3 separate regions of the Homo sapiens genome follow, and all the other regions are linked to region 1. Evidence: fine-mapped expression QTL. A gene starts in region 1. Each other region holds a variant in brackets. All regions are shown on one strand. Distances are from middle to middle. Region 1 holds the start of ZNF597 (zinc finger protein 597). Region 2 has its middle 12 kb from the start of ZNF174. Region 3 holds the start of ZSCAN32 (zinc finger and SCAN domain containing 32).

Evidence for each region. PIP is the estimated chance that this variant, and not a neighbour inherited with it, causes the effect.
Region 2: its variant is fine-mapped to the expression of ZNF597 in whole blood (TOPMed, PIP above 0.99).
Region 3: its variant is fine-mapped to the expression of ZNF597 in blood mononuclear cells (TOPMed, PIP above 0.99).

Annotation. Positions count from the first base shown.
Region 1 is chr16:3,441,989-3,444,832 of GRCh38, reverse strand. ZNF597 (zinc finger protein 597) reads left to right here and starts at 1,329. Exons shown (of 4, transcript NM_152457.3): 1 at 1,329-1,473; 2 at 1,627-1,712. The coding sequence starts at 1,680. NAA60 (N-alpha-acetyltransferase 60, NatF catalytic subunit) reads right to left here and starts at 1,153. Exons shown (of 8, transcript NM_001083601.3): 1 at 996-1,153. RefSeq lists an enhancer at 920-1,069.
Region 2 is chr16:3,411,854-3,414,697 of GRCh38, reverse strand. No RefSeq gene overlaps it. Among named protein-coding and RNA genes, the nearest start is that of ZNF174, 12 kb to the right of the region's middle. The variant C/A (reference allele first, on the strand shown) is at 1,155.
Region 3 is chr16:3,399,234-3,401,733 of GRCh38, reverse strand. It overlaps ZSCAN32 (zinc finger and SCAN domain containing 32), which reads left to right and starts at 730. Exons shown (of 7, transcript NM_001284527.2): 1 at 730-789. It overlaps ZNF174 (zinc finger protein 174), which reads right to left and starts at 519. Exons shown (of 3, transcript NM_003450.3): 1 at 1-519. LOC105371059 (a long non-coding RNA gene) reads right to left here. Exons shown (of 4, transcript XR_007064949.1): 3 at 2,208-2,500; 4 at 2,065-2,103. RefSeq lists silencers at 173-392, 943-1,092 and an enhancer at 470-969. The variant C/A (reference allele first, on the strand shown) is at 1,335.

The DNA of each region.
Region 1 (2,844 bases):
AGTTTAGGATGGGTACATGACACAATACATGTCTGTATATTTTACCTGGATTCTATTGTCAACGTTACCAACATGCTTAGGGTGGCAGAGAAGCACTGGGACCTTGATGTTGTCACTGGGCCACCGAATTAACCAACCTGTAACTGCTCTTTGAACATCCTTTCGGTGGGTTTTCTGTTACTTGTAGCTGAAACTATCCTATCAGATATTCCACAAAATCACATTACCTAAGTTGTCAAATCTCCTAATATTGTTTTAATAACCATGCAGCCATTCATTAAGCTTTTAGATACAGGAATGTGCCTGGCACTGGAATAAGGAAATATGTTGAGACTTTTCAGGCTTTTCTATCAAGGTACCTATCATTTTCGTCTTTTTTTTTCCCCAAACACCTTTATAAACTGGCAATTTCTTTCACTTACATTATCTTATAATCTTTGAAATTACCCTCTGAGTTAGCCCAGAGAGGCACTCTGAGCTGTTTGCAGCTGAGGAAAGCAAAGTTGTAAACTGGCCAAGATTACCAACCAATCAGTGGCAGAGCTTGGGGAGGAGCTCAATTTTCCAATTCCAAATGCCTACACCAGGGCACTCCCTCCTCCCCCAGCACACAATAGGAAATGACTGGCTCTAGGGTAGGCTGCATGTGAGGTATCCGGGGGCGAACAACGTCCTGCGACGCTAACCTATGGCTCTATTCTCGCGTGGGATCCTGTGACTAGGAAGCTGAAGCAGCTCGCTTAGGCTGCAGCTGCGGGTACAATACGTAATGCCTCTATAACACTTTGAGTCAGAGTCCAGCAACCTGGCCTACACCGATGTGAACGTTGTGAACGTACACAAAGATACTCCTTCATGTTCCACGGCCCCACCATCCGCTCAAGACACAAAGGACAGCTCAAGCCCAGGCTAGGCCCGAACCCCCGCCCTCTCAATCACCTTGCTCTGGCCAGACCGAAATTTCAGGCCTACAGGGCACTGTTGGCCGAACCCACATTTTGTTACCGATTTTCTTTCGAGTTCCGGTGTCTCCCAGTCTTCTTTCTGTCCTTCTTCTCGGAAACATTACGTCCCCCTGGGGTCACCCTAAGACTCTACTTCAGCAGGCAAACAGGCCCGGAGCTCACGGAGGAGACCCCGCCAGCGGAAGCGGAAATGGTTGCTTAGAGAAAAGGAGGAAAACTACCTCTCGCAGCTGCCCAGTGGCTACAGGTCCTCGGTTAAGGTGTTCAATTGGTCAACACAAAAGAAGGACTTCCCCTTCGGGAGAACTTCGACCAATCAAAGGGCAGGATGGCGGAGAGGGCTGAGGGCGGGTCGCTTCCGGCGGCTTTTCCCGCAGCTCCTGCGTAAAGGAGCATGAGAGCGTGGGAGTTTTGCAGTGGCCGTGGCGTTCTTCGTCGCGTCTCGGTCGGGCGTCGCTTTCTGCAGCTCCTGTCAGGGAGCGCGAGGCCTGTTATTAACCGCGGAGCGGTAAGTGGGCCCCTTTCGAGGCCGGGCCAAGAGGAGGAGCAGTCGGCGTAGGTTTTTAAGGGGGGGTTCGGAGGGAATCGAGGGAGGCTAGGGGTAGTGGAGGAACTTGGCAGCGGAATTGGTCCCTTTAAGAACTGTTCTCTCCCCCCGCAGCTTTGTCACGAAGTCCCTGTGGCGTCTTGAAGAAGGCATTCCCCACCCGCCAAATGGCGTCCATGCCCCCGACGCCCGAGGCCCAGGTGAGTCGAGGTACCTTTTTCGTCCAAGTTTATTGCTGCTTTCGGTCTCTGCCTGACCCCCTCCTTTGGAGGAGAGTTGGGCATGCCTGTTGTGGTAGGAGTGCTCCTGAGCCCCAAATAGCCCTTTGACCAAGTGTTCTTCGTTCCAAGACCACACACATAATGGTTTACCAACTTCCTTCTTTCAGAACTACCAACTGGGAGCAGGGACCTGTGGAGGAATCTCTGAGAGAGTTTCTCAATGTCTTATCTGTTTGTTTTGTTTTGTTTGGAGATAGGGTCTGGCCTTGTCGCTGGAGTGTTGCTTGTCTGGCTGGAGTGCAGTGCTGATATCATAGCTCCGTCTGGAACTCAGGGAATCCTTACGCCTCAGCCTCTCGAGTATCTGAGAGGCGCGCATACCACAGTGTCTGGCTACTTTTAAAAGTTCTTTTTTTTTTTTTTTTGATACAGAGTCTCGCTCTGTCGCCCAGGCTGGAGTGCAGTGGCGCGATCTCGGCTCACTGCAAGCTCCGCCTCCCGGGTTCATGCCATTCTCCTGCCTCAGCCTCCCGAGTAGATGGGACTACAGGCGCCTGCCGCCACGCCCTGCTAATTTTTTGTATTTTTAGTAGAGACGGGGTTTCACCGTGTTAGCCAGGATGGTCTCAATCTCCTGACCTTGTGATCCGCCCGCCTCGGTCTCCCAAAGTGCTGGAATTACAGGTGTGAGCCACTGCGCCCGGCCTAAAACTTCTTTATGGAGATGGAGTCTTGCTGCTTTGCCAAGGAACTCCTGGCCTTCAGCTATCCTCCCACCTCGGCTCCCCAAAGTGCTAGGATTAAAAGTGACTTTCTGGAATGGTTCCCAAAATTACAGATTTGGTACTTCTCCAATTTGAATGAATTTTTAAATTAAGCACATTTCTAGACTCCACACTCGTTGAGTAATAATAAATCCCAAGTGATTAATTTATCACACCGTTAGAGAAGGTGGGGTAGGCCTGGATGAAGTGCTGGAGTGAGCTTAGCAATGAGTGTCATGGGGACGAGAGGAAATAGCAAAGGGAAGGATGTTGGGAGAATCCTGTAACCTTTATCTCTTTATGATTCTTCCTGGGCTGCCCAACTTTCTCCTTTTCTTTTCTTTTTT
Region 2 (2,844 bases), 30 kb after region 1:
TCCGCCTCCTGGGTTCAAGCAATTCTCCTGCCTCAGCCTCCCTGAGTAGCTGGGACTATAAGCGCACGCCACCACGCCCAGCTAATTTTTTTTTTTTTTTTTTTTTTTTTTTTTTTATATTTTTGTTAGAGACGAGGTTTCACCATGTAGGCCAGGCTGGTCTCGAACTCTTGACCTCAGGTGATCCGCCCACCTCAGCCTCCCAAAGTACTGGGATTACAGGCGTGAACCACCGCGCCCGGCCTGGAGACTGGGCTTTCTAAGAGACCATGAGCATCGTCCGGGTTCACCATATTGCCTCCAGCCCCTATTGGTGCCTGGCGTGTTGTGGACAGTCAATAAATATTTGTCATTTGCGTGAACAAGCTTAATGAATGAACCCCAGGACACCCTTTGAGGTTCAACAGTCTCAGGCAAGCAACAGCTCAGCAGTACGTGGAGCCCACGAAAACCACAATTCCCAGAGGGCTCCGTGGCTGCCCGGCCTCCTCTTCACCCTGACAGCTGTGCCAGGCAATGGAAGGTGAGAATTCCTCGGGCTGGGCGCCAAGCAGCCCACTCAGAGGGGACTCTTTCAGGTATTTCCTGTCGAGGCCCCGCCCCTCACCCTAGGAGCGTTCTATCCTCCGGTGGCGATTTCCGGAAAAGCCTACCTGGAACATCCGGCCACAGGGCTCGCTCAGCTGCAGGGTCCTTACCTGTCTATTCCTGCCCGTTGTCCCTGGGTGACCCCGGGAATGGGGGCATGTGACTCCCCGGGGGACCGCGTTCCCTCCCTCCCAGCACGTCCCAGGCCCAGAGGAGGAGGCGGCTTCACCCTGGCGGGGGCTTGCCCTCAAACCTATCGGGCACTGACCCTTGGAGGAGGGCTCCCGGGTGCAGTGTTGAGGCGGGAAGGCAGAGATCTGCATTGAGAGGGTTTCGTTGCGATCTGCATTGAGAGGGCAACTGCAGCCAAGTAGAGCCATGTTTTGCTTTGAGAAGGTTTAAGAGGAATTCATCTAGCCAGTGAGGTCAGGGAGTCACTGTCTCACTGCTGTTTTCTTTTTTTTGAGACGGTGTTTCACTCTTGTGACTTCCAGTCTCTGGTTGCAAATATAAGGAGCTTGAAAGTTGTCACTCCATTCTAATGACAAATAAAAAGCTGAACAACC[C/A]GAAAAACCCAACAATTCTTCTGTAAGAGAAGTGAGGTCACAGGGCAAACAGCCACCCCAAAATTTGTAGAGACAGACTGGTGGATACGGAGAATCACAATCTATTGGAGCAGCTGAGGTCCTCTGGCAGACCATGCATGGGTACGGGGGCTGAGAGGAAACTTACATCTGAGTACAGGACCTTGGGTTCTTGTAGCCATTGGACCCTTCCTGGTCCTCTTGGCCTGGAGTTGAGCCTTATACCAAAGGAAGGCTATGCTTGGGGATGGTCTGTTGCCCAGGCTGGAGTGCAATGGTGCGATCTCAGCTCACTGCAACCTCTACCTTCCTTCAGCCTCGCCTCCCGGGTTCAAGAGATTCTCATGCCTCAGCCTCGTGAGTAGCTGGGACTACAGGCGCACACCACCACACGCGGCTAATTCTTTTTTTTTTTTTTTTTTTTGGTACAGACAGGATTTCACCATGTTGGCCAGGCTGGTTTTGAACTCCTGGCCTCAAATGATCCGCCTGCCTCGGCCTCCCAAAGTCCTGGGATTGCAGGTGTGAGCCACTGCGCCTGACCCCAACCCTTATAATTAAGTAGAAATCTATGGTCCTTCTCTTTTAGGAGAGATGCTCTTTGACTAACTTGATTCAAGATGGATATGTGCGGTGGGTTGAGTCATGGCACCCCAAATGTGTCCACATCCTAATACTTGGAACCCATTAAGTTTACCTTATATGGCAAAAGGGGCTTTGCAGATGTTATTAAGTTAAGGATCTTGAGATAGGGAGATTATTCTGGATTATGCCGGTGGGCCCAACATCATAACGGTCCTTATACAAGGCAAGCAGGAAGGTCATAGTCAGAGGAGAATGCGGTGGAATGAGATTGGAGTGATGCACTTTGAGGGTGGAGGCCAAAGGATGTGGGTGGCTGTTAGAAGCTGAAAAAGTCAAGGCAAGAGATTCACCCCTCAGAGCCTTCAGAGGAACCAGCCTTGCCGACAGCTTGATTTTGGCTGAGTGAAATCAATTTCAGATTTCTGACCTCTAGAACGATAAGGTTGTGGGTTTTTTTTTTTTTTTTTTTTTTTTTTTTTTGAGACGGAGTCTTGCTCTGTAGCCCAGGCTCTGGAGTGCAGTGGTGCAAACTCGGCTCACTGCAAGCTCCACCTCCTGGGTTCACGCCACTCTCCTGCCTCAGCCTCCTGAGTAGCTGGGACTACAGGTGCCTGCCACCACGCCCAGCTAATTTTTTTTGTATTTTTAGTAGAGACGGGGTTTCACTGTGTTAGCCAGGATGGTCTCGATCTTCTGACCTCGTGATCCACCCACCTCGGCCTCCCAAAGTGCTGGGATTACAGGCGTGAGCCACCGTGCCCGGCGGTTTTTTTGCTTTTTGTGTTTTTTTGTTTGTTTTTGTTTTTTGAGTCCAAGTTTCACTCTTGCTGCCCAGGCTGGAGTGCAGTGGCACAATCTCGGCCCACTGCAGCCTCTGCCTCCCATGTTCAAGTGATTCTTCTGCCTCAGCCTCCCGAGTAGCTGGGATTATAGGCGTGCACCACCACATCCGGTTAATTTTTGTATTTTTAGTAGAGACAGGCTTTCACCATATTGGCCAGGCTGATCTTGAACTTCTGACCTCAGGTGAACTTTTCACAACCTTGGCCTCCCAAAGTGCTGGGATTACAGGTGTGAGCCACCACGC
Region 3 (2,500 bases), 43 kb after region 1:
TCTGGGGAAAAAATACTTCTTTTATTTCAGTAGCAAGCACACAGGTCTCGGATTTAATGAGCAATACGCTCTAACCGGCGGGTGGAGCGGAATCCCTAGGAAAAGTTCAAGCTGTCGCAGGTAGCTTGCCCCAACTCTCCCGCATCCTGGCGGAAACCGACCGGGTGCATGTCGCCGGGTGCTAAACGGTAGAGCTAAGCGAGGCCACAGCGCCAGCCGGGGGTGTGAGGTAGCGAACAGCCTCCTGCACGCGAGCAAAGCGGCTGCTCGCTGCCGAGGCGCCGCAGGCCCAGTGGCTCCGGCCTCCAGGGCGGCCCCGCGGCCCAGCCAGCCCCAGGCCTGGCGAAGCTGCCGCAACCCGATGCGCAGCTGAACTCCACGCCCGGTGTGAGCTCGGACTGGCGACTGCGACACCGGTACCCCGAACAGCCCGGCGCCCCGCACCCACCTGCAGCCGACTCACCTCTCCGGGAACCCAAGACCGAGGGACTTAGGACCCGACACCGGCGAGCACGGGCTGGGGGCGGGGCCGATGCCACTCGCTGCGGAGACGCCCACTAGCTGCTGAGGACAACTACTGACAGGGCCCGCCTCCTGCCAAGGGCATTCTCTACCGTCTATTGGTTGCTGCGCCTGTCAATACCGTCGCAGTGCATCCCGGGAGCTGCAGTCCGGCAATTCGGCTTGCGGGCCTGCGCAGGGGCGTGCGTAATGGGCGGAGCGAATCGCGCCGCTGACTTCCGGCCCGGAGGCTGAGGGAGTTTGTGGAGTCGCGAGTGCTGGTGTCCGGTGAGTTCTCCGCTTCCTTGCGGCCGGCGGGATTAGCCGCTGGGCCCTGCGACGGCCGAGGAGCCCCTCCCCGCTGGGAGTCTTCTCCGAGGCGTTCGGGTCCGGCCCCGATGGGCGTCTCCTTGGGACAGGCAGCCTCCCTCAGGCCGGGCGTCCCCAGACGCGCCGCGATCACCGTGCCCCGCTCCCACCGTGCGGATCACCCCGAGCCTGAGCGCCGGCGCCCCGGGACCCCCTGGCCTTGACCCTGCTCATCTCGTCCCTGTCTCGCCCACTCCCTACTCATCCACAGTGCCTAGCCCTGGCACCGAGTGCGTTCTGAGTACTCAATAAATAGTTAACTAAGTGAAAAACCTATCAACCTGGCTCCCCATCCTCATGCTACATTTTTTTCCGAGTGTTTGGGCCATCGCTAGAGTGAAGTAAAATTTTCAGAGAACAGCATTTTAAAATTTAACGATGAGTGGGAGGTAAGGGGTCAAAAGGGGTCAAGAAGGGTGCAGGTTCCGCCTTCTGCATGAAGTTAGAAGAGCTTTTATTAAATT[C/A]TTCTTCAGCCAGGTAAGGCACAGGATGAACATAATGAAGGCAAGGGGTGCTGGTTCTAGTCCTGGCCTTGCTGCCTAGGAGCTGTGCTGTGTGATGCTTTAGGCAAGATACTTCATCGCTCTCAGTTTCTTTTTGGCTAGAAAGCAGTGCTAACAATAATAATGCCCTTGATTTCTCTATCTCTAGAAGCACTGAAATGTAAAGAGAATTTAAGTGAAGGCAGTTCAAGTTCCTTGAGAAAAGGGAACCCAAATCCATTTTTAAAATATAAAAAAATTTCTTTAATTTTTAAAAAACATTTACCATCATAACCATTTTTAAGTGTACAGCTCAGTAGTCCTGAGTATATTCATCTTGTTGTGCATGCTGGATCCATTTTAATACCACATGGTGAGGGTGTATCAGCCCCTGGAGAAAATGTAAATTACGATCTGCTTTAATCTGTGTTTTAAGTAGATAAAAACCAACACAAACTCATTAAAAAAGACTGCCTTCGCGGGTGCAGTGGCTCACACCTGTAATCCCAGCACTTTGGGAGGCCAAGGTGGGAGGATCACTTGAGCACAGGAGTTTGAGACCAGCCTGGGCAACATAGTGAAACTCCACCTCTACAAAAAATACAAAAGTTAGCTTCTATTTAAAATTATTTTTAAGGTCGGGCATGGTGGCTTATACTTGTAATCCTAACACTTTGGGAGGTTGAGGTGGGAGGATTGCTTGAGTTCAGGAGTTTGAGACCAGCCTGGGCAACAGAGTGAGACTCCATCTCTAAAGATAAAAAAACAAATAAAATTATTTTTAAAAGTTATTTATTAATTTTAAATTATATAAAACTATTTTTAAAATTAACTCTTAAAAAAATATTGCCTTACATAAACTGGCCTTGGAGATCCAAACATGTTGTCAAGACTTGAGTATATTGTCCTCTTGTAAACAGGCTCACTCCTGTGATGGAAGAGTGGAGTAGAGAGTGGGACATAGTTGGAGACAACTCTGATCTTACATTTGCCCAATTTACCAATTCCTAGAAAATGAAGAGCTTTCCCTACCTCTCATGTAAAATCTGAGAAAAGAATTTTGATAGGCCTAGCTGTGTGTCATATGCCCACTTCTGGGGAAGTGGGTATTGTAATTAATATCCCCACCAGAACCAATGAGAGGGACT